Linked DNA regions of Homo sapiens. The protein of the gene in region 1 purifies or fractionates together with the protein of each later gene. This does not show direct contact. Each region holds a gene or a part of one and is shown in the gene's direction. Other genes may lie near its edges. The genes, in order: C2CD2, ARHGAP10, SEC14L1 and ARHGAP26.

Region 1 (7,564 bases):
CGTGCAGTCTGGTCTTCACTCTCAGAGACTGTTCACGCGGCATCTGAGGCTCACCTGGGGAGTTAGTGCAGTTACTCAGCATTGCTGCTTTCCTCCTGGGGAAGGCATCATGAACAGCATCTCCATAAGTCATGCAAATGATTACTAGAAGAACTCACGGCCCCTCTTCGGGGGGAAAGCCCTGTCTGGCGCCGGGCCAGGCTCTGGCCACGGGTGACCTTTGGTTGGGTCCGCCGGCTCCGGTATTGACCCTGTGAGCAGTACAGGAAATAGACTCGAAGCACATTCCAGCCTCCAGGTGGTGGAAATGACTAAGCCAGTGAGATGGAGCCAAGGAGATTGGGTCAAATGTCTCCACAGCCTCTCTGGTCTCCAGAAATCTCGCTTCCCACAGCAGCTGCCGAGGGCACTGAGCCAAGTGCTAAAAGCATTTTGCTAAGAGGGAATTCTCGAAACGTCTGCCCCCAAGTGCTGCTGGGGGGAAGCTGTGTATTTCCACTTGCTAGAGGTCCCTGGTAGGGCCTGTGAAGTGACCATCACAGCTCCCCGGGGCCCCCAAGGTGCTGGTCTCACAATATTGGGGCACAACTTGATAATTCAAGCAATACTAATAATGTGAACTGCTTCAGGGTGAAGGGGAAACTTTTCACTCAGAGACAAACTATAAACATTTTGGACGCTCTTCTTTTCCCTGCTTCTAGAAATTTAAGAATGACATTGAAAACTTAACAAAAGTCCCACATTTTTCTAAAAGAATTTTTTAAAACCCAAAAGTATAACAAAGTATAACTGTTTATAGACGTGCGATACATGACATACATGACACTAGACATATCTATTAATTTCTAAAAATGTCACAGCATCCCAGAACCTCCTGGGCTTGGGAGAGGAAGACGTTCAAAGACTTACAGCTTTGAGGCAGGGATGAGGCACTGCACCCAAGACTGGGTGACTCAGCAGAGATCATCCAACAGACAATTCTCATCTCCACCACCAGCATTTAGAAATGTTTTAAAGTGAAAAATAGAACAGTGGCTCTTGACTGTGGCCTCAAACCCAGCTACTGTAAAGCATTATGAAGAATTTAGACACTTGGCTTCCTCCTTCCCGCCTGGAGGCCTGCCATGCTAGCGAAGGCAGCCCTGGTTCAAGGTTTCTGGTGGACCCAGCAGATGGATGGGAAGCGGGCTTAGCTTGACCTAAACAGCTGGGAGCTGGGAGCTCAAGGTGAGCATGCAGGAGGGGCCACAGCCACAGTGCTTTCCCTTTATGAGCAGCTAAAAATAGCAAACAACCACTGCAGAGTGACAGAGACCCATTTGAAGGTTTTGGTGGAGACAGAAGCCCTCCCCGGGCAGAGCTGCAGTCTCACTCCTTGGGTGGAAGGGAGATGTGGTGGAGAGAGAGGTGCCGGGAGCAGGAAATGTCACTGGGGGTGAGGCAGAATCCTGTGCTCTGGGAGAACCCAGCCCTCCAGTGTCTTCTGCAGTGGGAGAAGGGGACTGGGAGTTGGTGGATGTGTAGGGCTGGGAGCTTGTGTAAAGGGAGCCTGCTCTTTTTCATAGATTTATAAGATGTTTCTGTTCCGATTTCGTGTTTTGGCCAACTGCATTGTCCTGCAAGCCTGCATCATTCCTTATTTTCCCTCGATTTGCTTCTACACGTAAGTAATCCAATATCTACATGTTGACATTATCTTTGAAAACACTTAACGGGGCTAGGCACAGTGGCTCACACCTGTAATCCCAGCACTTTGGGAGGCTGAGGTGGGCAGATCACCTGAGGTCAGGAGTTCAAGACCAGCCTAGCCAACATGGTGAAACCCCGTCTCCACTAAAAATACAAAAATTAGCTGGCGTGGTGGCAGGCGCCTGTAGTCCCAGTTACTCGGGAGGCTGAGGCAGGAGAATTGCTTGAACCTGGAAGGCGGAGGTTGCAGTGAGCCGAGATTGTGCCACTGCACTCCAGTCTAGGTGACAAAGTGAGACTCTGCCTCAAAATACAGAAAGAAATTAAAGAAAGAAAGAAAAGAAAATTTGTCACATGGAAGTGTGACAAATCCCAAACTAGGGGTGCTGGTTAGTTTACAGTTTGTTACAAGCCTCTAAATAAGTAAGTGGGATGGGCCAGCACACCTGAGACCTGAAGGAATGAGACGGGTTCCACCGGTCACACAGGACAGGCTCTCGTCACTGCCCACACAGCCGCAGGCGGCCTGTGTGCACACATGGCACGGGGAACACTGGGCCCTCGGATTCCTCACCCCGGTTATTCTGGCAAGGGGACCAGCAGGACTCGAATTATCTGACTGCATAGGTCTAGCTACAGGTCAGAACATAATTAGACTTTTCTGCCAAATAAGAAGGGATTTCTTTTGTTTCTGCCTAAAATAACACAGAATAGAAGAAAAGAAGAGCAGTTCCCCCCACCCTTAAGAGGCTGCGGCAGACTGGAGCGCTCGTGTGTAACACATGGGTCACTTGCAGGATGCTGATGGTCTCATTCTTAATTTTTTTTTTTTTTTTTGAGACGGAGTCTCGCTCTGTCGCCCAGGCTGGAGTGCAGTGGCGCGATCTCGGCTCACTGCAAGCTCCGCCTCCCGGGTTCACTCCATTTTCCTGCCTCAGCCTCCCGAGTAGCTGGGACTATAGGCGACCGCCATCACGCCCGGCTGAGTTTTGTGTGTGTGTGTGTTTTTAATAGAGACGGGGTTTCACCATGTTAGCCAGGATGGATAGTCTCATTCTTATTTCCACTTTCTGATAACAGACCTGGCTCGCAAGGGTCCATCCCCAGCTCACCTGGGCAATCCCCGTCTAATTTCACCTCCCTGACAGCGTCCTATCCTGTTCCCCACAAAGGCTCTCCGTCCAGCTGCTGTGCCATTCCTTCCTCTTTCCTGAAGAAAATCCGGGCCCACGGATTCAGGGCCAGAATCCCCTCTGATGGACCATCCACTGGCCCCGCAGCAGACTCCTGGCTAGGGAAGAGAAGGCCAAATGCTCAGTCTATCTAATTCCTTTCAAGGTCAAGTCCCCTTAATACAGCTGCAGAAAATAACAGGGGAATCACTTTTTTATGGTTTAGGCCTGTTTTAGGCCCCGGAGAATCTCAGGCTAGTATGTTTCTATGGCACTCCCTAAGGACCGCGTCCACTCTGCAAGAGGAGGGCACAGGGGCATGTCCCACACACCACACCACACACACACACACCATACCACATGCACCACACTGACACACCACCCACACACCACGCCACATGCACCGCACTCACACATTACACATACACACACTCCACATCCATGTACCACACATACACACACCACCGTGTTCACCACACACACAAACCACACCACATGCAACGCACTTACACAATACATATACACACAGCACCACACCACACCCATGTGCCACACACACACGCTCACATCACCCTGTGCACCACACACACACGCACCACACTGACACACCACATACATACACCACACCACATCACACATACACACCACACACACCACATGCACCACACACACACACCACATGCTGTGCACTTACACATCACACGTACACACACCCATGCACCACACCGACACCACACACGCACCACACCACATGCACCACGCTTACACATCACACACACACACCACACACACACACCACACACACTGCACTTATACATCACACATACACACCCATGCACCACCATACACACTCGCACCATCCTGTGCACCACACACCACACACATACACCACATGCTGTGCACTTACACATCACACGTACACACACCCATGCACCACACCGACACACCACACACGCACCACACCACATGCACCACGCTTACACATCACACACACCACATGCACCACACTGGCACGCAACACACATACCACACCACATGCACCACGCTTACACACACACCACACCCATGCACCACACATACACACTCACACCATCCTGTGCACCACACACCACACCCACAACACATCACACCACATGCGCCACACACATCACACCACATGCACCCCCGCCCCACCCGCACACTGAATGAATGACACAGCCACACAGAAGGCAGGGCCTGGGCCTGGTGCTGAGCCCCTCCTTGCCTCTGAGAAGCACGCCCCCTAAGGCAGGCCCAGCCCCTGGCTCCAGGGGCAGCCACGGATTTCCAGGGACTTTCCGAGGACTGAGCCTGGATCCTGTCTCGCTGGCGAGCAAATGGCAGTCCTCGAAATCACCCTGACTGCGCGCTGTGCACACGCACACTCACACATGTGCACACACACGCACTTGTGCAAGCGCGCACACGAGCCAAGCCAAGCAGCCGCACAGCAGCCGCCGGGGTTGGGCTGATGAATCCGGAGGCCCGGGTCACCTCGCGGCCCGCGGGCAGGCGCCGGAGGGGCGGGCGACGCGCGCACGTGGCGGGGCCGGGAAGGCCGGGCCTTTAGGGGGGCGGGGGCACGCCGCGTTGGGAGCAGGGGGGAGGACTGCGGCCCCCGCAGGCCCGGCCGCGCCCCCTCCCTCGGGCACCGCCCCCGCCCCGCCCCGCCCCGCGGCCAGAGCCTCCTCCGGCCACCGCTGGGCCGCGGGCGGGACGCCCGGGGCGGCGCGCGCAGGAGGAAGCGCGGCCCGCAGCGGCCCAGGAACTTCCCAGACGCCGAGTCGGGAGCGCGGGCCGCGGGGTCCGCTCGCGCCCCTGTTCCGCAGGTGTGCGGGGCTTGCGCCCAGCCCGGGCCGCGGCCGCCGCGCGTTTCCTCCCCGCTTGCCCGCCCAGAGGCCCCCGGCCACGCTCCTCGCCGGGCTCCGACCCCGCCGCGCCCCCTCCACGCCCCCAGCGCGCTGTGGCCGCAGCCAGCGCGTGTCCTGAGTCCGCCGTTCCGGCCCGGGGCTGCCGGGGAAGTTGGGGCGAGGCGGGCCGGGGATGCGCCATGGCCATGGCCCGGCTGGGCTCGTGGCTCGGGGAGGCGCAGTGGCTCGCGCTGGTGTCGCTCTTCGTCGCGGCCCTGGCCACGGTAGGCCTGTACCTGGCGCAGTGGGCGCTGGCCAGGGCGCGACCCCAGCCCCAGCGGCGGGCGGTGGAGCCTGGAGAGGGGCCGCGCCCGGGGTCCGACGCGCTGCTCTCCTGGATCCTGACGCTGGGCAGCTGGAGGAGCCAGTGGCAGGCGGCCTGGGTGACCGCCCTGAACGAGGAGGCCGAGAGGAAAGGGGTGAGTTTCCGGGACTGCGGGCCGGGGGGCGGCAGATGCCGGGGCGGGCGGTCCGGGCCGAGGTCTTTCCTGGAGGCGTCGCTGCAGCCCCTGACCCAGGCTAAGGGAGTCCTCCCCCCAGCGCAGACCATCCTCGAGAGTTAGGAGAGAGACGGGGGAGCGAGGCCCCTTGACGGAGAGACAAGACAAAGTGATTGATTTTATTCTCCAAACGGCAGGTGCTCCAGGCCCTGGGCTCCGCGAGGGACAGGCTGGCAGTTGGAGGGACCGTCAGAAGTGCTCATCCGCGCCAGCCAGTACCTGCCTTGCCTGGAGTCCCGGGGCGAATTCCCGTGCCCGATCGGACACTTACTGAGCTTGCACATGATACATGAATAGCTGTGACCCCAATGTGCTTCCGCCTCTCATAGAGCTGAATTTCACCAAGAATTTATCTCCAAAGACTTGCATTTCTTGGCATATAAAAATAGTGACCGTTTGCTGAGGGCCAGCCGCTGGGCAGACATCCTACCGAGGCTTTCGGTGCGTCTGCCATCTCTGAATCCTCACAACTCCCGGGACAGGGGTGTTATCACTGTTTTACAGATGAGGAAACCAAGGCCCGGAGAGGGCAAGCAGCCTGCCCAGTGCCACACAGCTCGTGGGCGGCAGAGCTGGCATGTGAATCCAGCTGCCCTGGCCTGCAAGCTAAGGGCCTCGTGTCTTACCTCTGCTGCCTCACAGTCCTGTGGGTGTTTCTGTAGTCGCTGATTACTCGTTGACTTATTTTTGCTTTTAAGACATCTTAGTATAACGACAAGCTCCTGGCATGTACTATTCTTAGGCATTTCACAGGAGAAGTTGGAGCCTGGGTGGGTTTGGGGAGGCACCCCTAGTCTTGGCCGCTGCTCCGCCCTTCCAGGCCACAGTTTCCTGCACATGCCTGTGCAGCTCAGTGGTCATTCGCTGTGGAAATAGCAGAATTGCTCATTTTCAATGTCCGGCCCCATCAACCTTCAAAATATTCCATGGCGGGCCCTGTGCCTGGTCCTTGTGCATGGCCTTGGAAGACATGGCCATGGAATTAAAAAACAAAAAAGCTTTGACTATCAGTTAGCAGCCATCCAACAAATCAAGAGACCTTGTTTTGAACTCTTGAAAAAGAACATAAATGACTGTACTTTTTGGAGGAAAAAGGCTTCAGGGTCAGTTGACTGACTTTTGTCCTGGTGCCCAGAATCTGTGCCTCAGCTGTCCAGAGCTGGAGAGTGTCTCAGGGAAACCAGCTGTCTCTTGTGGGAGCCCTCCACCCCTGTTGGCCTCACATCCAGGAGCAAATGCAGGTATTTCCCCAGGAAGCTGCCATCACTGACCCCTGACTGACCTGGAATCAAGGCTTCTGAGGCTGAGTCCCCTCCAGGCTGGTGGCTTGATTGGGCACCAGTCTCATCTGTGTCCTTTGTAGGAGGCAGGCAAGTGTTGGGTGAATGACCTTTAAGTTCAGCTTCTAACTCTGGAGTTTCAGGCTTAGAGGCAGTGACCCTACCTCCTGTATATTTGGGATGGTTCGTTTCCTGACATCTATGGATTGGCTTCAGAAAATATGATCCTCTTGGATATGATCCTTCCATATTCCCATCTGACTGAAGTGTTGAGAGGCAGAGAAGAGGATGTCCCTGGCATCTGTCTTAGGCTGGTCAAGTCAATCTGAGAACACTGAAAGAAATATTTGAAAGTTTTGGATGAAAACTTTTTACTTGAGTCTTTGTGTGGGAGCAGGGAGGGGTTGCGTTCAGGGAGAGGAGAGAGGGTCTCACCTTGTTTGCGCCTTCTCTGTTCTCTCTCTGCTGTTGGCCACACACTGCAGTCTCAGACACCTGTCTCTCCTGACCTCCTGCCTGGAAGAGGCAACAGTGTCCCGGATTCATGCTCAAAGCAACCCAGGGCCATCTCTGGCATTTTTGCATGGACATAGTCCATTAGTTCTGTGATGTCAGTTTTTGGTATTGCTTACTTTCCTGGGGACGGGGGTGGGGGAACACAGCCCTGATGCCTGGGAATGTCATTTGATTTGCATTCAAATGGAAGGTTTTGCAGGCAGATAGGATCTGGGTGACTGGGCTCCCTGTGAGTGACGGTCACACACCCTCCCGGCATCCTGAGCCGTCGCTGCCGTGTCAGTGATGGCATTGTGGGTGAGCAGGTAGTGGTGTTTGCATTCCTGGCCGCCCCGAGTCCAGCGATTGTCACACACATCCCAGCATCCTGGGCCATCGCTGTTGTGACAGTGATGGCGGTGTGGGAGAGCAGGGGCTGCTGTGTCCATTCGTGGCTGCCCTCCCCCACCTCCATTCCCACTAATCCCGGATTAGGGCTG
Region 2 (7,501 bases), on another chromosome or scaffold:
TAGACCCATATTTAACTTTACAGGTAGGTACTTTGTGAGTCATCACAACACAAAAACTACAGTATGGTATGCAGCAGAACCTACATCAAGGGAAGGTTTCCTATCTGTTAACCTCTATTTCATGTAGACTGAAACTTGACCAGCTTGCATTGATTCAAATCCCTAACTAATCCAAGCACTGAGTAAAGCATAAAAATGCCATTTGGGTGTCAGTGCCTACATGACTTAAGTACTTGAATGTCTCCCAGGCATCTCAAACATTTCATGAGTTTATACTGAAACGCATCCTTCCAACCCAGTCATCACCAACACTGCCATGACAGCTTCTTACCTCATGTTATCCTTTCAGTAAGTGGCATATCCATCCACCTAACTTACCATGCCACAAGCCTGGGGGCCACCGCTGACCCCTTCTTCCTCATTTCCAATATCCAGGCTATTGTCAAGTCCCAGAATCTCCTTCTAAAATATACTTCATTTCTGTCTATTTCTCGCTGTTTCCTTGGAGGGTCACCTTGGAGGATTGAGCTATTCCATTTCTTGCCCAGACAACTCCAACCACCTTCTGTCTGGATTTCCATTCTCCACACAGCAGCTAGAGAGAAAACACAATCCGGATCATTTTACTACATGCATAAAACTCTTTAAAGGCTCCCAACAGTGTTGGGATACAGTCCCAAATCCTAAATAAGACTTAGAGGCTCTGCACCATCTGACCCTGCCTATCCTCCACCACCTGGCATAGTTGTGAGCCAGTCTCTCTCACTGGGCTTCAGCCACCGACCTGTTCATCTCTTGAGTGTGCCATCTCAGGGGCCTGCACAAGCTGGTCCCATGTCTGTACTACTCTGTTCCTACCCCTATTTAACAGTTAACTCCTACTGATATTCCTGGTCATTGATTAAATTATCATTTTCATATCACTTCCTCAATGAGGCCTTCCTTGACCCAGCCCCAATCTCCATCAGGTGTTCCAATTATAATCTCTCACACACCCTTCACTTTAACTGCATGGTGCTTCAATTTTCAATTGGATATATATGTGTGTGATTTTTCTTTTTCTTTTTTTTTGGGATGAGGCCAGTCTCCCCCAGAGACCAAAAGCACGGTGAGGACTGTTTTGTGTGCTGCTGCATCATGAGCACCTAATACGGTGCCTAATACATATAAATGATCAGTAAATATTTGTGGGAATAATTGATTAATTAAGATGAAACCTGGAAACTCAGTAGCATCTGCTTTTGTGGCCACTTTTCTTGAGTTCTGTCTTACATGGTTTAAAACCATGATTTAAGGGCTCTCCTGCCCCGAAAATCTTTCCCACATTGATGGAATGTAATCTGTCTCCTCCTCTCCCTCATCCCTCTCTTCAGCCCATCCTCCACACTTCCTTCTTCCTTGAGTCTCATTATTATCATAATTTTCAGCAGGCACTTTACAAACACAATTTCATTAAATCTTCTCAAGCAACCTGCAGCTGCAATGTCATCATCTCCATTTCACTGATGGTAAGTCTGAGGTTTACAGAAAATTACCTTTGCTAAGGTTGCACAACTGTTAAGTAGTAAAGCTGGAGCTGGAACTACTAAATATCTATCTTTCCACTGTCCACTGTACAGAGATTTCTCTTCAGTTAGTTATACTTATTCATTCCACATTTACTGATCACTTGTATACCAGACACTGCATAGGCATAGCTGAATAAAACAAAATTAATCAGGCCCCTCCACTCATGGTAATTATTGTGGACCTATTTGGTAATGAATTAAGATTCATATTCACTAGCTCTTTAACACTGGGTGTACATGTGTGTGAAGTGATAAGTAATATTTTTTATGATGTTTTGACATTGTTTTAAACAACTTTTTTTTTTCTCCAAATATCTAAAGAACTGGGCACACTGAATAAACCAGAGTTTTTACGGCTTGAAGTCTAATGTGGTAAAGGAGAAGCAGTTCTAGAGTAGTTCATCTTAAAAAAAATTTTTTATTGAGATATATTTCACAGACCAAAAGAAATCCACCCATTTATCACATACAATTAAGTGATTTTGAGTATATTCAGAATTGTGCAACCATTACCAAAATGTAAATTTAAATTGTTTTCGGCCAGGCTCGGCGGCTCACTCCCATAACTCCAGCAATTTGGGAGACCAAGGTGGGAGCATCATTTGAACTAAGGAGTTTGAGAAAAGCCTGGGCAACATAGTGAGACCCTATCTCTATGAAAAATAAAAATATTAATAATTTTCATCACCCTGAAAATAAACTCCTGACTACATATACCCTCCACTCTATCCCCCAGTCTCTAGCAACCACTAATCTTTCTGCCTCTATAGATTTACCTGTTTTGGACATTTAATATAAGTAGATAGTATTGGCCTTTTGCAGCTAGGTTCTTTTACTTAGTATAACGTTTTCACCGTTATTGTGCCGTAGCACGTGTCAGTACTTCATTCCTTTTTATTGTAGATTAATATTTCATTTTATGGACAAACATTTTGTGCATCCATTACACAGCTGACAAAGGACATTTTGGTTGATTCTACTTTTTGGCTATTACGAATAATGCTGCTATGAATATTTGTGTGTAAATATTTGCGTGGACATATATTTTCATTTCTTTTGGGTATATATCTAAGCGTGGACTTGCTGGGTCACACGGTAACCTCCATGTTCAATATTGAAGAAGTCTCAGCAGCCCCTCTATGAGAAAAGGTTTGGGTTTCTGCTCTGAGGATTGAGTGTGGTCAGTGCTTGGCTGTTTCGCTAGGCCCTCATTTTTGTTTACACCCCCTCTCTTCTTGTCTTTCTTCCCCTTTATTTGCCTCTTTTATTCTCTTTTCTGTAGACTCCAGTCTCCTGCTGGTTTTAGTAGGAACTGAAGCTTTCACCGCCTAAAAGTTATTTGTAAAACACTTTGAACTCTCTGGAGGATGGACATTAGAGTAATAATGTTTATCTGTGGGTTAGGCACTCCTGGTGCTGTTTTGTAACAAAAGGGCTTATTGAGTAGGAGGCTTATTTAACTTGTTCGGGAGGGTTACCCTCCTACAACATGCTGTCCAAACAGATTCTTAATTACCCAGCTGAGAGTCTGAACGTCTTGAGGAATTACTTTGAAGTTTCTCGTTAATATTACCATCATATCATGTAAGTCTATATCGCGAGTTTGTAGATGTATGGAGTTCCTAGTGGGTGCCCGGCACATAATAATTGCTTAATAAATTGCGATTATGAAACGTTACTCTAATGAACTATTAGTGTTTTTTTTTAAGAAATACTTTTTTTTTTTTTTGAGACATTGTCTCGCTCTGTCGCCCAGGCTGGAGTGCAGTGGCACCATCACGACTCACTGCAACCTCCGCCTCCTGGGTTCAAGCGATTCTCCTGCCTCAGCTGGGACTACAGGCACGTGCCACCGCACCCGGGTACTTTTTGTATTTTAAGTAGAGACGGGGTTTCACCATGTTAGCCAGCTGGTCTCCAACTCCTGACCTCAGGTGATCTACCCGCCTCCGTCTCCCAAAGTGTTGGGATTACAGGCGTGAGCCACCACGTCCGGCCTAAGGTATACATTTTAATACTTTAAAATGCCTAACTTTTTTTGGGACACACTGGAGTTGTTTCATAACACACAAAATAGGCTTTTTGAGGGCACTGACATAAATTCTCATTGATCGTCACCCCCACGCGGTGAAAACCACACGTTACCTGGCATGTTTTCCGGTAGTTATTTTTAGAATAATAAAGATCGTCTTCACCTACCCCAGCAAATTTAATGTGCTGAACACAACAGAAACAACTTTTCTGTGGTTTAGCCAGCCCTCTCTCTTCAACTAAGTTATTTAGTGCGGATACGCAGAGAAGTGTAATAGGAGCTGCTGGGCCACCAAGAAAACGCTCTTGCCATTGTAAGGCTTCGATCTCAAGCGGAGATTTACCACGCATCTCACTTTAAACTGGGAAAGGAACCGGGATAAGGAAAAGAGCCCCCTGTGCGAGTTCGTTCCCAGCTCGGGGTTGGGGGCGTCCCAGGATAAATGAGATAAATGAGTTAATCATCTCCTGCAAGGCAGCCACTTCAGAGTTATGTCGCCCGCCTGCGGGGACTAACGACTGCAATTAAGACGCTCCTTCTCGGTCCCGGTCGGGTTCCGTGCAGCGGGGAGCCGACTGTGAGTCACCCCGGCCCCGGGAGCCCAAGCAAAGGGGAGGGGAGAGCGCCCAGGGTGGAGGGGAGCCGCGGGGCGAAATTCTAGCCCCAGGACGCCTCGGAAGGAAGAGGAGGGGCAGCTGCGCGTGGGGAAGAGAAGGAAGAGGCGTCCAGGGAAGGGAAGGGAGGAAGAAGGAAGGCGGAGGAAAGAGAAGGGGACGAGCGGGAGCGCGGGCCCGGCCGGGTGGCGCCTCGGGGAGTGTCTGCCGCGCGGGGGCCGGGCGGGGCGGGGCCGCGGGCGCTCAGAGCTCGGCGGGGGCTGCCGGGATTGGGGCGCCGCAGCTAGCGCTGGTCTCGGTGGCAGCTCCTCCGCGCCGCAGGACTCGGCTCTACGGGACATGTCCGTGCCGCGCTCGCCGCGCGCCCGGGCCTGCTAGCTCCTCTGTGCTCCCTGAACGCGCGGCGCCGCACCTGGCAGCGGCCTCGGAGCTCGGCTCGGGCAGGAGCGCGCGGCCGTGCGCACCGCGCAGCGACCGCTGCCGTCATGGGGCTGCAGCCCCTGGAGTTCAGCGACTGCTACCTCGACAGCCCGTGGTTCCGGGAGAGGATCCGCGCTCACGAAGCGGAACTCGAGAGGACCAACAAGTTCATCAAAGAGCTCATTAAGGACGGGAAGAACCTCATCGCTGCGACGAAAAGTAAGCGGGGACGCGGGCGCGGACGGGCTGCGGCGTGGCGAGGCGGCTGGGGGAGCCTCTCTCGGCAGGAGACGGAGGGTCTTGTGTCCGGGGCCAGCAGCCAGAGGAACGGGGAATTCATTCCGGACCAGCCCAGCTCTCTCGGAACCCCGGGGGGTCCCTGGAATCATTCCTCCTCGAGGCAGCGCGGCGAGTCCCCATTCCCGCCCCTGCGGCTCTGCGGCGGCGGGAACCAGCTGCCAGCGGGCCCCGCCTGGGCCCCGCCTGGCCCCGGCCGAACACCCCTCGCTGAATGCGCGCTCCGCTGGACCGACCCTAGGCACTCCTGGCCCGGAGTCAGGTTTCATTGCTGCCTAAAGCTACTCACAATCTCTTACAAAACCGAGGCATCTGTTTGCCTAGTTTTGTTTTGTGACTTCTCAAAAGAAATTTCTTGGGGATTCTTTGAAACCCTGCGGGAGTGTTGAGTTTTCCAGAGTCCCCTTAAGCTTCACCTTTTCCCTCTCATTGTCTGATCTTCCCCGACAGTCCTGTTCCAGGTCCTTCACGTGCCAAACCAGAAAGTCCACCTGGCTTTATGCTGCTTCCGCACATTCCTCCCCTGCCGTGCTGAGGAGGGTTCAAAGATTGGGGTTTGGAAGGGTGAGCGGACAGCCTGCCCTCTAGCCTAGGCGGGCACTGCTTGCAAATAGGGAATTCCACCCCGGTTAGGCTTGGTGCCTTCCTCCCCTGAACTTCTGTCTCTTAAACTCGGAAGAAGACACGAGATACAGGAGAGATAACTGTATTTTAGTGTAGTTGAGGAGAGTCTTTCTAGGAGAGAAGGGGCCAAAATTCATGCAGAAATACTGAGTTAGTGATGCTACTGGAAAATGGGGCGGAATTAGCCCCAGTGAGGAGCTGGGCAGCCTGACCATCCCTTGGATCCATAACCCCTTCGGAGGATGGCGGTGAATGTCCCCTTTCCCCCTTTAAAAGACCTGTCCATACAGCAGACAGGGACTTGGGCAGTATCCAGCCTTGAGGGGCTGGGTTCTTAGGGCCTTCATCACTCACCTAGATTCTCAGTTCAGTAATTCTCAGCCTTAGGTATTCGTCCCTTGTACATTTGTTTGTAGATACCACCTCTGGGGAAAATCCCCCATCTCACTGTTCTCCCGACCGCGCCCCGCCCCATTTTTCAGTAAGGGCGATTAAAACATATTGATTATACTGTCTCGGGCACCCAGCATGGTGCCTGGTACAGTAAATATGCATTTAATGAATAAGTTGAAGTACATTTCTGTGGGAAGAATTTAGTGAGCCATCCCTGTAATTTTGGAGGCAAGTCACTCAACTTCTCTGGATGATCTCCAAGGTTCCTTTTGGTTCTCTGACCTCTTTGGTGTTGCAAAATCAGGACTGGGACTCACTTAGGGTTTTTTTGTTTTGTTTTTAAGTCTCTGCTGCTTGAATCAGAAATGGGACTCTGGGACATGTGACAAGTGGGCTTATTTGGTTGAGGGCTCTCCAGGCCCTTGGCATCTGGTATGTGTGTTGGGTGGGAAGTAGGGGGGCGCCTATACATATGGAGGAGTGAGCATAGAAAGGAGGAGTTGGGAGCGGGGGTGCAGAGTGAACACGAGAGAATGAGGACTGAGGACTCTTTCTGTAACTTGATGTTAACCAGAGTCAGTGGCCGGGAGAATGTACCTTCTCTCTCATTGGTTGTAGTAGTTCCCTCTGGAGCTAGAGAGGTGTGGAGAGAGGCAGAGGGCAAAGCCAGTTTGGCCACTGGTAGAAAGCTATTTCTGTGACAGCATATTAGCTTTCCTGCCATCAGGACACATGCGTTAGGTTCCAGCAGCAGCCAGTGCATCTGGGGGGCCAGATGTCAGCTTTCCTCCAGACTGTAGACTTTCTTGAATTTGTGAATTAGTATCTTACTCATTTTGATTCTCGTCCTTTAGCATAAGAAACATAACTTGTAATCATGCTTTGAGAGTAATTGGGAAGTGTCTTTTTTTCTCGTTATGTTCATTAAGAATTTATGTTTAAATTCTTTCCCAGAAGGTGACAGGAACACAGCTGTAGCTCACATGCCTTTTCCCGCTTGCTCCATAAAGTTTACTTCTAGTTCCTATCAAAGACTAAGAGCCTTGGACTAAAGTCAGGGGACCTGAATTTAATTCTTCTTCACTGGTTAGGGCGTGGCTATAGGAAAATTGAGCAGGTCTTATTCTTTTGCGTCCAACTTCCCCTGTCTACCTCTTAGGGGAACTAATAAGGTTCTGCAGCATTTGAAAATGGCTTGATGAGGTTATTTGAAACTGCAGTCTAGGTAAATGGTTCATCTAACCAGTTGAGCTTTTGTATAACATCAGAGAGTCAAGGGATGACATTGGGTGGAGGATCTACAGAAAGAATAAAACCCACTAGGTCAGATTATTTATATTTCCAGATATTTTATATTTTATTTTACAAAAATGACCTTTTGAGCATTTCGAGAAGTGTGTATTTAAGTGATTTCTATTTTTAATTGCCCTGCACGGTGTCTCCTGTTTGCATTACATTCTTGGAAGATTTCAATATGTAATTTTGATGGCTTGATGCTTTGAAGTCTTCCATAAATATTTAGAGTTTTGAGGCCTATGCGACCTGAAGGCTTA
Region 3 (6,988 bases), on another chromosome or scaffold:
CTCACCGCAACCTCTGCCTCCCAGGTTCAAGCAATTCTCCTGCCTCAGCCTCCAGAGTAGCTGGGATTATAGGCATGTGCCACCATGCCTGGTTAATTTTGTATTTTTAGTAGAGACGGGGTTTCTCCATATTGGTCAGGTTGGTCTTAAACTCCCAACCTCAGGGGATCCACCTGCCTTGGCCTCCCAAAGTGCTGGGATTACAAGCGTGAGCCACCACGCTCAGCCACAAGAAAGCAGTAATTTCTTAGTATCATTATATGTTCAAATAGTGCTTAAGAGGTTCCACAGGCTGTTCAGGAAGCATGGCGCTGGCATCTGCTTAGCTTCTGGTGAAGCCTCAGGGAGCTTTTAGTCTTGGTGGAAGGAGAGAAGGGGGAACAGGCAGGTCACATGGTGAAAGCAGGCAGAAGCTCCAGAGAGTAGGGGGAGGTGCCACCCATTTTTAAGTGAGAAGATCTCATGTGAACTTAGAGAGAGCTCACTTATGGCCAAGGGGATGGCCCAAGCCATTCATGAGGGATCTGATGACCCAAACGCCTCCCACCAGGCCAGACCTCCAACACTGTGGATTACAATTCAACATGAGATTTGAGTTCAGACTATCTCAGGGCCTACATTCCTGATCATGAGGAATAAGACCACCTGCATCCACACAGCTTAGCCATCAGGACTGAGACCTAAGATCTCTGTGTCAACATGACTTACTATTTGATCCAGGAGATTCTTGTTCAGGAATATTAGACTGTAAACCAATACGTGCTTTCACTGTTTGCCTCAACAAATTCCTGAAAAAGCATTTATTGTAACAAAAGATTGCTTATCTTTACATATAACCCCCTTCTCTGGATAACAGTATAACCACCCAAGGGGTTCACCTTCCCTGCTGCCTAGAGAGAGCTGATTCATCAGGACAGGAGGATTGCAATAGAGTCATTCACACAGAGCTGGCTGTGCAGGAGATTGGAGTTTTATTATTACTCAAATCAGTCTCCCTGAACATTCAGGGAGCAGAGTTTTTAAAGACAACTTGGTGGGTCGGGGGAGGCCAGTGAGCCAGGAGTGCTGATTGGTCAGGGAGGAAATCATAGGGAGTCGGAGCTGTCTTCTTGTGCTGAGTCAGTTCCTGGGCGGGGGCCACAAGATCAGATGAGCCTGTTTGTTGATCTGGGTGGTGCCAGCTGAGCCATCAAGGGGAGGATCTGCAAAATGTCTCAAGCACTGATCTTAGGAGCAGTTTAGGGAGGGTCAGAATCTTGTAGCCTCCAGCTGCATGACTCCTAAACCATAATTTCTAATTTGTGGCTAATGTTAGTCCTACAAAGGCAATCTAGTCCCCAGGCAAGTAGGAGGTTGGTGGGCAGGGTGCTGTGGTTCACTCCTGTAATACCACCACTCTGGGAGGCTGAGGCAGGCAGATCACAAGGTCAGGAGTTTGAGACCGGCCTGACCAACATGGTGAAAGCCCGTCTCTACTAAAAATAAAAAAATTAGCTGGGCACTCGCCTGTAATCCCAGCTACTCGGGAGGCTGAGGCAGGAGGGCAGGAGAATCACTTGAACCCAGGAGGTGGAGGTTGCAGTGAGCCAAGATCGTGCCACTGCACTCCAGCCTGGGCAACAGAGTAAGACTCCATCTCAAAACAAACAAACAAACAAAAAAACAAAAAAAACCTAAGGAAAAAAATAGCAAAAAGTAGCCAGGCGTGGTGGCACATGCCTGTAGTCACAGCTACTCAGAAGGCTGAGGTGGGAGGTTCACTTGAGGCCAGGTGATGATGCTGCAGACGGCTATGATTATGCCACTGCCCTCAAGCCTGGGGAACAGAGTGAGACTGTTTCAAGAAAAAAAAAATGGAAATAAAGTTTTTTGTGATTGGTTGATGTCTCAAGTCTGTTTTTTCTTCAAAATGTTTAACTGAAGTATAATATACATATAAAAGCTTGCAAATCATAAATGAATGTATGGCTCAACAAATTTCCCAATCTCTTTTAATCTATAGATTGACCATTCCCCTCTTTTTTTCCTTTGGAATTTGATAAAGAATATATTTGTCTTGTACCGTTTCCCACAGTCTGTACTTTGCCAATTGTTTTTCATGGTGTCATTTAGCATGTTCCTCTATTCTGTATTTCCTGTAAACTGGTGGTTGCATCTAGAAGTTCAGCAGGTCAGGTGAATTTTTTTTTTTTTTTTTTTTTTTGACACGGAGTCTTGCTGGAGTCCAGCCCAGGCTGGAGTGCAGGGCAGGTGGCGTGATCTTGCCTCACTGCAACCTCTGCCCAGGTTCAAGTGATTCTCCTGCCTCAGCCTCCCAAGTAGCTGGGATTACAGGCATCTGGCACCACACCCGGCTACTTTTTGTATTTTTAGTGGAGACGAGGTCTCACCGTGTTGACCAGGATGGTCTCAAACTCCTGACCTCAGGTGATCCACCCACCTAGGTCTCCCAGACTGTTGGGATTACAGGCGTGAGCCACCGCAACGGCGTTAAAGCGTCTTTTGAAGGTGGATGTGATTTTTTTTTTTTTTTTTGGGACGGAGTCTCGCTCTGTCGACCAGGCTGGGGTGCAGTGGCGCGATCTCGGCTCACTGCAAGCTCTGCCTCCAGGGTTCACGCCATTCTCCTGCCTCAGACTCCCAAGTAGCTGGGACTACAGGCGCCCGCCACCACGCCCGGCTAATCTGTTGTATTTTTAGTAGAGACAGGGATTTCACCGTGTTAGCCAGGATGGTCTCGATCTCCTGACCTCGTGATCCGCCCACCTCGGCCTCCCAAAGTGCTGAGATTACAGGCGTGAGCCACCGCGCCCGGCCGGTGGATGTGATTTCTACAAACAAGCAAAAGCCAGTCAGACTGAATGTAGTGAATAATGTAGGTGACCCAGCTGGAAGATGATGGTTTGACGTGGAACACAAGGGGTGATGAGGCCATGAATGATTTGCTTGTGTGTCTGGTAAACTGGCTTTGATGGAAATTCCTAAACAGGTCCAAAAACGTTCTGTCCAATGGCAGCATGAAATGTACAGCCACTCAGGGTGACTAATGTGAACGGAACAACAGTGACTTTGACAGTGAAATTGCATGTTGGTTATAAAACCAGCTTTGCTGTGTGGGTGGGCATGCGAGGTGCCCCTTTCTAGTCATGAGCTCCTCTTAAGGACCCCAAAATGTCTCAGTGGTACCGGATTGAAAATTGGGGCTGGACGGTGCTCTCCTGCTGAAATTCGGGAGCTACTTAGCAGCCCCACCTTGGCACCCTCGTTTCCGAGGGGCAGGCCCTGGGCGCGCGTCTCAGTTTCAAGCCCGCGGCCCGACACTAGAGCCGTCTGGATGTGTTGACAAGGATGCCGCTGGGCTCCACCCGGGCTCACCCGGGCCCTCCCGAGCCCTGGGCCGCGCAGCACCGGCGTCCGCCTCCTCCCCATTACTCGGCGAGAATGCGGTCGGGGCACTGGCGCGAGCAGCCTGGTGCTCCTGAACAGTCAACAAGAAATGAGGAAGCACGGGGGCAGCCGCCAGGGCGACCAGAGGCAGGCCTCAGAGCAGCAGCCATACGGGAGGGCCCCGGTGGTTTTGACCTCCCGCAAACTTCCCTTTTCCCGCTCAGCCGAACCCCTCCCCTGCACGCCGGCAGCCCCTTGGGGCTTCACTCCGCCTCCGCCCGCTACTCGCGAAGCCCAGCCCGGCCCCGCCCCCAACAAGTGACGCAAAACTGGGAGGGGCCACGAGGACCTCGGGCACATCCAGCAGTGCGACGGGGCCGGCGCCTTCTCCGAGCTCCTCCCACGCTCGCGGGTCGGAGCTCGCGCCTGCGCAGTTCGGGCCCCGGGTGTCCTCCCCCCTCCCCTTTCTTAGCAACCATCGCCCGCTCCCGCCCCCGCTCCCTCGGCCGCGGCCGCGCACGCGCGCCCCTCCCGGCGCCCGGCCCCGCCCACCCCGTCACCCGTAACAACCACAAGTGCCGTCGCCGCGCCCCTTCCCCCTCCCGCCTCCCCGGCCCCCTCCCCGGAACCGGCGGTCGAGCTACGGTCGCGGAGCAGTGGAACCGAGACTGCCCCGCGGAGCCGCCGGTATGAGCGCCCCTCGCCACCCCGTGTCCCAGGCCCGGCCTTTCTGACAAGAGGTAGGCGCGTCGTCGCGGCGGGTCCGAGTGCGCCCTCGCCCCGGTCCCGGTCTCCGTGGAGTCCGGCGCCTCTCGGGCGGGCCCCCCGGAACTCCCGGCCGCCCGCTTGCTGAGCCTGTCCCTCCCCAGCCCCGGCTGCCATCGGCCCGGCACCCGAAACGGGCCGTGCCCCCGCCCCCCTGCTCGCCCTCCGCCCCCCTGCTCGCCCCTCGCCGCCCCTCGCCCCCCTCCCCCGCCCCCACCCCCACCTCGCCAGGCTTCCAGTTCCCGGGAGCCGCTTTTTGCTGAGAGCGGAGTTTCGGGTCCGGAGCCAGTGCCCGCCCCTCTCTCCCGTCGGTCGGGGCTTTGGCCCCGTGGGGCTCAGCCGCGCGGGACCCCTGCTGAGCAGCCCCGGGCGCCGGCCGCCCCTCGAGCCTGCTCGGGATGCGTTCAGTGGGTCTGGCCTTTGGCTCCTGTTTAAACAGCGATTGTCATGCAATGGAGGCCGTCCGGCTCCTGGATGCCACTTGGTCGTTGTCACTCCGGATGCCCGCGTAGGGCGTTTATCTGGACCAGAGCATCGGCAGCTGAGACCTGGCTGTGGTTCACAAGCTCGTGAATTAGCAGGTTCTTAAGTGAGTGTAGCCAGTTCTGCCAGGCGGTGGAATCCTGAATGGATGTTACCGTTTCTTAAACGAGCATTACGCTTTTTTGCTTCTTCCCCCAACTCTTGTTTGTACCCGGTTATCGTCCTCATATCTGGGAGAGTACCCTAAAATTAATATTCCCAATTAAATTTTTAAAAGATGATTGGATTCCCACTGTGCACCAACACTGTAAGGTTTGCAAAAGAAAAAGAACGTGGTCCCAGCACATCAGGATGTGTCAGTCGCATAATCAAGATGAATATTAGAAAAGCTTCAAGTTGAGTTTGGAGAACTTGGGAGTTTGGCTCTCATTCTCATGGTTTTAGAGGTGGAAGTCTTTCAAGATCATCTCCCCGAAAACCTCATTTTACAGAGATGAAACTGAGTCCTAGGGAAGTCAAATGGCTTACTCGTGGTCACCCAGAGTCATTCCTTAGCCGTTTTCACACTGTCAGATGGCGATGTTTTCCACCATGACCTCTCCTCTGAGAGGTATGCCAGACATACCAGAGAAAGTTCCAAACCTGTTTAAACCTTAGTACTATAGATGGGAATTCTATACCAGGCGCCGTGACTCATGACTATAATCCTAGCACTTTGGGAGGCTGAAGTGGGCAGATCCCTTGAGCCCAGGAGTTTGAGACCAGCCTGGGCAACATGGGGAAACCTTCTACAAAAAATATATATGGTGGTGCGTGCCTGTGGTCCCAGCTACTTGGGAGGCTGAGGCAGGAGGATCACTTGAGCTTAGAAGGTGGAGGCTGCAGTGAGTGGAGATTGTGCCACTGTGTTCCACCTTGGGCAACAGAGAGACACCCTGTCTCAAAAAAAAAAAAAAAAAAAAAGGAATCTTGGAAGTTTCTGAAATAAAATACATCTTGGTAATTTGTCTCTCTCTTTTTTTTTTAACAGCTAGACTTCGGGCTCCTTGAGGATATTCAGTTTTGTATGTTTGAATATCCTCTCACCATGTTCAGCATAAAGTACCATTCTTAATGATTATCCTCAACAAGACAGGTAGGCTCATTCGATTTTTCTTTCTCACTTTAAATAGGGGAGACAGAGGACTGGCAAGTCCAGGTGTGTTTTTAGAGCAATCCGTGTAGGCTGGCGCTAGAGAATGATTATGCACCCATAAGGAGGGCTCCTTGACTGTGAATTAGGTGTGAACATTTAACCGATTACTTACGGATATTAGCTATCTGAGGCTAGAGATTTCAGTGGAGCCTGTTTAGCCAGAATACTTGGCATCTCTGCCACTCGAAGACAGGTCGCCAAAGCTGTAGTGTACACAGTTAGAAAATAGGAATTGACACGTTTCCTTTGAAGCTAGCTTTTGAGGAGTATTCCATAGTTTGAGATACAGTAGTATTTTTTTCCAGTTTTATTTTTGTTTTCCCAGAGCTAATATCTTAACACGAGATCATTTTTATTTGGCTTCTAGTAGAAGTTGTTTAAGAGAAAATGATCCAAGCATTAATTATATTGGTTATTAGAATAATAGAATCATAACAGTTCATTGCTGGAAAGGACTCAGGTCAGGTCATGTAATGAATGCAGAGTCCCAGTAAGCCAATGAGAGGATTGGACCCCTCTCACACCAGTACTGTTTGCCTCATTGCATTGGGGCTTTGTCTGCTTTTTCTTATTGTTTAATTACCTCCCCCTGCCCTCATGTATTTAAATATCATCTTTTCATTTTTGTGTGCATAGAATTATGACCTATTGTGGTCTCTTTCTGTCGTTAGAGTGTGGTATGATGTGTCAGTGCAGACTTACTAATAATTTGTTTCTGCATTGTGGTTACTTATCACATATATTTATGTTTTGCAGGTGTGAGAGGGTTGCTGTTGTATTGCAATCATGGTGCAGAAATACCAGTCCCCAGTGAGGGTGTACAAATACCCCTTTGAATTAATTATGGCTGTAAGTACTTGACATTTCAATTTACTCTTTGGCTTCTTATTTATAAAGTACAGTGTTAGAATTTGATGATCTATAGATTTATTGTTCGTCTCCATGGCATCACTTGAACTTACTCTGTTTTTATGCTTATGAACCGTATCTAGAGTGTGTAAAATGTTTTTAAAATACAAGCCTCTGAAAATAAAAATCTGCTTATTAAAAAAAATGCACCTCAGGGTAATGTATGAATTGAAGTTAATTCTCCCTTTGAACACACAGAAGTGGGATTCTAAGCACTTCTTCCTCGGGGTTGTGCTCTTTTTTTCCTTC
Region 4 (7,023 bases), on another chromosome or scaffold:
AGATTTTTGCTTTTTAAAATGAAAAAAATAAATTATGTTGTCAGCTAGGAAGTAGGAATAGGTTTTGCTTATGGTTATTCTTTTAGGATAACAAGGATAGAGAAGGAGGCACAGGGAGGCGGGAAAGATCTTTCCTATGTCAGGCTGTGATGTTGTGGTTGCCCCGTGGACAGCTGACCCCTCTTATTTGATAACCAGGTGGGACTGCAGCAAGCTCTTCCTCCTAGTGTTTGGGTAGAAGCATTTCTTTGAAGCAGACAGCTCCCCCATCTCTGGAGTCCCGTGGGCTTCATCCTGCCCCCTGAGGAGTGGACTTTCATTTCCCACTTTGTAATACTTCAAAGGTTCATATAGTGTTGGGGGTGGGGGAGAGAAAAGGTGCTGGGAGGAGAGAAGCAAGGGGGAAGTGGGCCAAAAATAGCAATATGTTAAGGAGTCATTTCCCATAAAAAAATGGACAATCAAGGCATGAGACTAAAGGAGGAAAAACAAAATAAATATTAGTAACTCCCTGCCTTTGGGGAGCACTTGCGGGTATGCCCAGGTGGCATCTTAGTGAGCTGTTTGAGAATATTTAATTACCCCGAGCAAGAGAGGCTCTGTTTACTATGAGTGAAGGATAAATCATAGTTAATAGGAGGAATGACCTTGGAATTAACTGCTTATCTTCTGCGTTATTCTCAAGTCAGGGGTAGTGTCATGCCTTGGAAAGGCGATGGGGCAGGGCATTTGCAGATAGCAGGGAGAGCAGAGTTAAGAAGAGGCAAAACAGTTTTCACTGTGAATGCTGGGACTCGGTTTGGCAGAGGAGCCTCCTCTCCTCTGTTATTGGAGCCATCTAAAAGGAAAGGTATGGGTCTTCCTCTCAGAAAAGTATTTTGTATAGAATAAGCCCAAAGCCTTCGGCCGTCTTTGAAGAAAAACATTCATTATCAGTCTCTAGTGACTCCATGGGGCTTACCACTCATTCACGGATTTATGTTAGGGGTCTGTATATGGTGCCACTGGATAGTTTTATAGCCAGAGGACCCAGCAATGCCTACTCTCCCACCACCCATGAGAATCTAAGGGGATAGATGGGCCGGGGACAGTGGCAATGGGAAGTTAAGGGCCATATTGTCATAATCTGGGTTTTATCTTCACAGGGCCCAGATCTTTGATTAAACTGGGCTGGCCTGCCCTCTGAGTTTAGGTCCAGTGCTATATACTTTTGTGCTTACTATTCCTGCTGCAAACAAGGTGGGAGAGTAGGGGGAGGGGGGGCGGGATGAGATTCCTTTACCGTCACTTATTATAGCTGCCTCTCAGAAAAGGAGAGTTAGTTAGGTGAAAATAAGTGGGATGGGATTATGTTTAGTAAGTAAAGTAAATTTTTTTTTTACATAATAAGTAATGTTTAACAGGTTAAAAAAAAATCATTTAGGGACTGAAAATCTGAAGACCACAATGTAAAATAAAGCAAATGTGTCTTGGAATAAGGTGGTATGGCAGGTCAGGGAGGTCAGAGTGGACCCCTCAGAAAATGTGGGTCAGCCTTCAGAAGCCGAAGTTAATGGGATAGTCCCCAAATACCATGGAGCTGTGCTTTGTGATAGAGGTGAGGCACTGGTCTTTCCTAAATCTCGTTCGGGCTTTTATTATAATCCTTTCTTCAGGTTGAAGTTTAGAACTGAGGGAAGATGTGTAGAACTTGAGAAGGGGCCAGGAAAGCATAACAACAGTGAGGTTTGGATGTAAGCTCCGAGAGGAAAGACCACAGGAATGCTGTTTGTTTAGTTTGGATAAATGAAGGCTGGTAGGGGCTCAGGGAGGGGACATTAATAGTTTTTAAGTATATGAAGCCGTGTGGTGAGCATTGTGGTGAACAGATGTTTTTACCATTCACTAAAGACAAGACTAAACAATGAAACGGGCTTACCTTTTAGCCTGAGGGATTTAATTGAGAATTTAGGGAAACCACCATAAGTGAAAATGTGGGAATATGGAAATATTTTAATAAAGGAATCCATAGTGTTTACTTTTGAGTAGTTTGGGGAAAGCACGGAAACACACTTCAGTTGGATGATTTTCTTTGATTTGACTTTGCCTGTTAGACTGTAGACTCAGGACACCCCACTTCCTTTTCTGCCTTCCTCTTCTGTGTAATAACCTGATACTACAAATGTACTAGAGGGAAACTGAGTCAGAACCCTGGTCTTTGGTTTCTGAGGAAATGATGTTCTCAGCAGGTGGTGAGGCCCACAGGGCAAGGGCATGGGTGTTGATGCCAAGGAGACCTGGTTTCAAGTTCTGGCTGCCACTTACTGTGTGTTTTGGGGCAAGTTTCTTAACCTCTCTGAACCTGCTTCCTCATTATTAAAATGGGGATAACAGTAGTGCTTAGGTCATGGGATGTTGTGAGTACTCACCCAGGGCATGGAAGGGCATAGTGCCTGGCACACAATTGGTGCTCTTTAAATGTCAGCCATTATTATTCTTTATTTTAGACTTTCAAGCCAGTGTTGGGAGCTCAGATACAGCTACATAATACCTCTTTTCAACCTGGTTATGTGACCTTTGCCTTTCTTCCTTCATTACAGCTGCTGGCCTTCCTGCAAGGACTCTTCACTTTCTATCACCATGGTTACGAACTGGCCAAGGATTTCGGGGACTTCAAGACACAGTTAACCATTAGCATACAGAACGTGAGTGGGCATAGGGACAGGCTTCTTTTATCTGGTTAAGGAAAAACAAAATATGGGCCTGATTGCCCTAGAAACCATCCAGGTGGCTTGGAATGTAGGTGAGGAGGGTGGGTCTTGCTTGGGTTCAGAGGGAAACTAGGGGCAGGCGTTTCTAGAGTGCTTGGTGGTTCTGAGTTAGACCATCATCCTCTTCTCCATTATTTCAAAGCCCTATTTATGTTCTCGGAAGTGCTGCTGCTGGTTATGTTTCAAATTTGTAGCGTCTGTAGCATTGGAGTCAGGATTTCCTTTGGCGGTGGAAATCCCAGCCCAACCCAGCCTCCATTCTATGCATCTAGCTGCCTGACTACATGAGACCGTGTGGAGTGTGTGTTCTGGGAATGGGGGCTGGGGACACATGCTGGCCTCCAGCTCAAAGGATGTTCTCTTGTCCAACTCTTAGGAAGGCTGGCAGGAAATCCAAGTCCGTGCTTCGCTCCCAGTGTGGTCAGCATTCCCAAGGTTTAAACACAGGACCTTTTGGTGCACAGAATCCTGCGTAGGGCTTTTTGGTTAGCAGTCACTGGGGCTTGAGCCCCCTTCTTCACTGTGGGATTGGACCATGTTATTCTTCTTATTTTCTTTGTCTCTAGGTGATCTTGTGTCCATGTGGGTTGTACTGCATGGGTTTTAGAAGCCTGGAGGTTACATAGTAGTCAGTGTTGTCTCAGAGAACAGGAAGTTGCAGAATCTTGGAAAAGGTTTCACAAAGCATGGCTTCCCCTTAGGCCAGGTTTCTCAGAATGCAGGCTCTGAAATCGAGATTGACATGCAGTGGGCTTACTGGAGGTGGGGGCAATGCTGGTGAAAACACCTGTGACAGAGTGAGGGCACCTGGACTCGCAGAGGGGGAAATAGAGCTGTGATGCAGATGCAGCAGAGGTCTCAGTGCAGGGGAGGCTCTGGAGCTGGGATGATCCTTCAAAGTCGCCCTGAATACAAGCAAGGGGGCCAGGCTTTCAACCCCCTTCTGCCTTTCCTCTAGCCTTGTCTAGTCATTGGGTGCAGGCTGACCTTGAGTGAAGGAACTCCCCTTTTAAGGAGGGACTCATCTGTGAGCCATCAGCAAGCAACATTCATGGCAGCTGGAGAAATGAACGCCTAGGTCCTTAAGTCATACAGGCCCCTAGAGCATCTGAATCAGAATCACCTGGGAGGCTTATCGTAAAACACACTTTTTGGCATCCAGAGGTGCTGAATTGATCTGTAGGAGTGAGGGCTGGGCATTTGCATTTTCTATAAGATCCCTAGGTGATTTTGATAGTCACTAGAGTTTGAGAGTCATTCTGGTATAGGACTTTAAGGCCAAAGTATACTTGTCATAAGGGAGTATTTGGCCAGTTCCTGGAAGGTTGAATGTCCTTTATCTCATTTTAGATCTAAGGATTCTATTAGGTTGATCTGGATTGTTAAAACAGATACTTTGTTTCTTTGATTTGAATAAAATTATTTTCATCCTAGACAAGAAATCGCTTTGAAGGCACTAGATCAGAAGTGGAATCACTGATGAAAAAGATGAAGGAGAATCCCCTTGAGCACAAGACCATCAGTCCCTACACCATGGAGGGATACCTCTACGTGCAGGAGAAACGTGAGTGCTTTGACTAGCAACAGCTTGGGATGTACTCAGGCCTCTTACCTAGAAGGTGGAGGATGTATTCAGCAGTGCCTACCTTACTGTAGATACATGCTTGGATAACAAGAACAATTTTATAGTTCACCTTTCCAAAGAGAAAGATGATGTCCACAGAATCTTGTCTACCTTTGTTTTTCTTTATGAATGGGAATTCCTTTGGGAACCTGCAATTCTTTAAGGCTCTGTGGTTGCTCTTCTCTCTCTAATGTTACTCTACTCTTGGGGTTCCTGTACCCCTAGTCCAGCTTTATGTACCATACCCTGAGCATAGCAGCCTTGGAAAGGTCTTACATGCTAGGCCCCTGTTATCTATCAGCAGTGTATCCTTTGGTAGACTTAATACTTGGTGATTCTGTTTTCATTTGACATTGTTTCAGCAAGGCCCAAACAATCATGACTTAGGCCTTTTTCCTCTTCTCCTCAACTCATTTCATTCCAACACTTGAATTTTATGAAAAGTAGGAACAAAGGCTCACTTCAAGAGCCAAGAAGAAGGCTGCATGCGGTGGCTCACGTCTGTAATCCCAGCACTTTTGGAGGCTGAGGTCGGTGGATTGCTTGAGCTCAGGAGTTCAAGACCAGCCTGGGCAACATAGTGAAACCCTGTCTCTACAAAAATACAAAAAGTAGCCAGGTGTGGTGGTGTGCACCTGTGGGCCCAGCTACTTGGGAGGCTGAGGTGGGAGGATTGCTTACCGGAGTGAGCCTGTTGAGGTTTATAAGAGCTCAGGAGGTGGAGGCTGCAGTGAGCTGAGATTGCCACCACTGTACTCCAGCCTGGGTGACAGAGCAAGACCCTGTCTCTTAAAAGAAAAAAAAAAAAGAGCCAAGAATACTCATTGTTCTGCCAGTGATGTCTAGGAAAGGAATGCCAGGTGCTGCTAACATGGACATTTTAGTGATGACTCACAAGTTCATGCCTTATGGCTGGGGAAAGGCTCTGTGATGGGGCCGTGCCGTTTAGGATAGCACATTCAGACTTAATTCGTGTATGCAATGCTAGGAACGAAAGAAAGTGAATGTTTTTTTCTTTAGTGGGTAATTCTTCTCCTAGTCCTTTGGTAGAGAACATTGGTCTTTTCAGATTTTTGCAGGTTTTGTGTTCTTTCATGTCCTGCTCTTCATGTAGAGTTAGGCAGATGTCTTCACTCCTAATAGCTTTCCGATGGGATAGAATAGAAATACTTGGTTTCACTAATTATTCTATTTAGTAATTACTCAAAAATTTGTTTGGACTTAAGTTTCCTGGTAACTGGGGCAGTAGTGGTGTTGGAGTATTGGCTGTGATGAGGATTACATTCCTTATTCTTACAGAGATGAGCCTGTTGAGGTTTATAAGAAATGTAGCTACTTCAGCTGTGTGTTTTGTATATGCCTGAATACAAAGTGATCCCCTCTTTGCCCAGTGAGAAGATCCCTGCAAAAGGTTTTAGGTCTACTTGAAAATATAAATTTTTAGGACTCTAAAAATATAGTTCAAAGTCCACCTATAATACTTAATTTGTTAATATATCATTCACTTACATATATAAAATCAATGTTGTTTTTTTGCACTCTCATGTCACACACTTTTATTCAGACACTTCACATGCTCTTTCAACATTAGTGTGTTGATTATCATGAGGACACTTTTTTGTTCCCTAACACAGTCCAGAGCACATGATGGGGATACAGCACTTTTTTTTTAATTTTAAATTTTTTGTAACTTGTTATTTTGAAATAATTTCAGACATACAGAAAAGTCGCAACAATGGTGTAAGGAACAACCATAAACCCTTTACCCAGTGCATCAATTTTTAACATTTAGCCACAATGATATCATTCCTTCTCTCTCTGTGTGGGTGTGTGAGTATTCACGTGAGTACAACTTGCATACACACACATACACACTTTTTTCTGAGTCATTTGAGAATATGGTTGCATATACCATGCTTCTTCAGTAGTGAGTATTTTCTAAGAATAAAAGATATTCTTTTTATGTAAACACATCTGTTAGGTTGGTGCAAGAGTAATTATGGTTTTTGCCATTAAAAGTAATAGCTAAAATCGCAATTGAACTCTTGCCATTAAAAGTAATGGCTAAAATCGCAATTGAACTCTTGCACCAACCTAATATCAAATTTAACATTGGTGCAATATTTAATCTGAACTACAGTCCGTATTCCAGTTTTGCCAGTTGTATCAATAATGGCCTTCTAAAGCATTTTGTTGTTCTCCAGTACAGAACCTCATACTGCATTTAGTTGTCATGACTTTAGTCTCCTTTAATCTGGAACAGTTCTCCAGCTTTTCTTTGTCTTTCATGACATTGACATTTTTGAACAACACAGTCCAGTTCCTTTATACAGTTTTCTTCAGCATGGGTTTATCTGGTGTTTCTTCATGATTAGATTTGGATTATGCATCTCTGGTCAAATCCTACATAAGAGTTCTTCTCTGGGGCCACATCTGGACACATGTGGTGTCGACCTGCCCCTCAGTGGTGATGTAAATTTTGATCACCCAGTCAAGGTATTGTCTGGTTTCTCCACTATACAGTCACTATTTTCCCCTTGTAACTAATTAGCAATCTGAAGGTAACACCTTAAGATCATGTAAATATCCTTCTCCTTATCACACTTTACCTCCATAGATTTAGCATCCATTGACAATCCTTGCCTGAGC

The links.
Region 2: the proteins of C2CD2 (region 1) and ARHGAP10 purify together in Homo sapiens (affinity purification with mass spectrometry; 3 studies listed by BioGRID and IntAct, with this or other methods). This does not show direct contact.
Region 3: the proteins of C2CD2 (region 1) and SEC14L1 purify together in Homo sapiens (affinity purification with mass spectrometry; 3 studies listed by BioGRID and IntAct, with this or other methods). This does not show direct contact.
Region 4: the proteins of C2CD2 (region 1) and ARHGAP26 purify together in Homo sapiens (affinity purification with mass spectrometry; 3 studies listed by BioGRID and IntAct, with this or other methods). This does not show direct contact.

Annotation. Positions count from the first base shown.
Region 1 is NC_000021.9:41,951,014-41,958,577, reverse strand, and holds the start of C2CD2 (C2 domain-containing protein 2), read left to right. Parts: upstream 1-4,559; 5' UTR 4,560-4,929; coding exon 4,930-5,208; intron 5,209-5,427; exon of another isoform or gene 5,428-6,524; coding exon of another isoform or gene 6,525-6,530; intron 6,531-7,564.
Region 2 is NC_000004.12:147,727,603-147,735,103, forward strand, and holds the start of ARHGAP10 (rho GTPase-activating protein 10), read left to right. Parts: upstream 1-4,485; 5' UTR 4,486-4,699; coding exon 4,700-4,853; intron 4,854-7,501. UniProt on the Homo sapiens protein: GTPase-activating protein that catalyzes the conversion of active GTP-bound Rho GTPases to their inactive GDP-bound form, thus suppressing various Rho GTPase-mediated cellular processes. Also converts Cdc42 to an inactive GDP-bound state.
Region 3 is NC_000017.11:77,136,981-77,143,968, forward strand, and holds the start of SEC14L1 (SEC14-like protein 1), read left to right. Parts: upstream 1-3,988; 5' UTR 3,989-4,127; intron 4,128-4,375; exon of another isoform or gene 4,376-4,459; intron 4,460-5,665; 5' UTR 5,666-5,770; intron 5,771-6,586; 5' UTR 6,587-6,616; coding exon 6,617-6,679; intron 6,680-6,988.
Region 4 is NC_000005.10:142,899,356-142,906,378, forward strand, and holds part of ARHGAP26 (rho GTPase-activating protein 26), read left to right. Parts: intron 1-2,579; coding exon 2,580-2,684; intron 2,685-4,184; coding exon 4,185-4,314; intron 4,315-7,023. UniProt on the Homo sapiens protein: GTPase-activating protein for RHOA and CDC42. Facilitates mitochondrial quality control by promoting Parkin-mediated recruitment of autophagosomes to damaged mitochondria.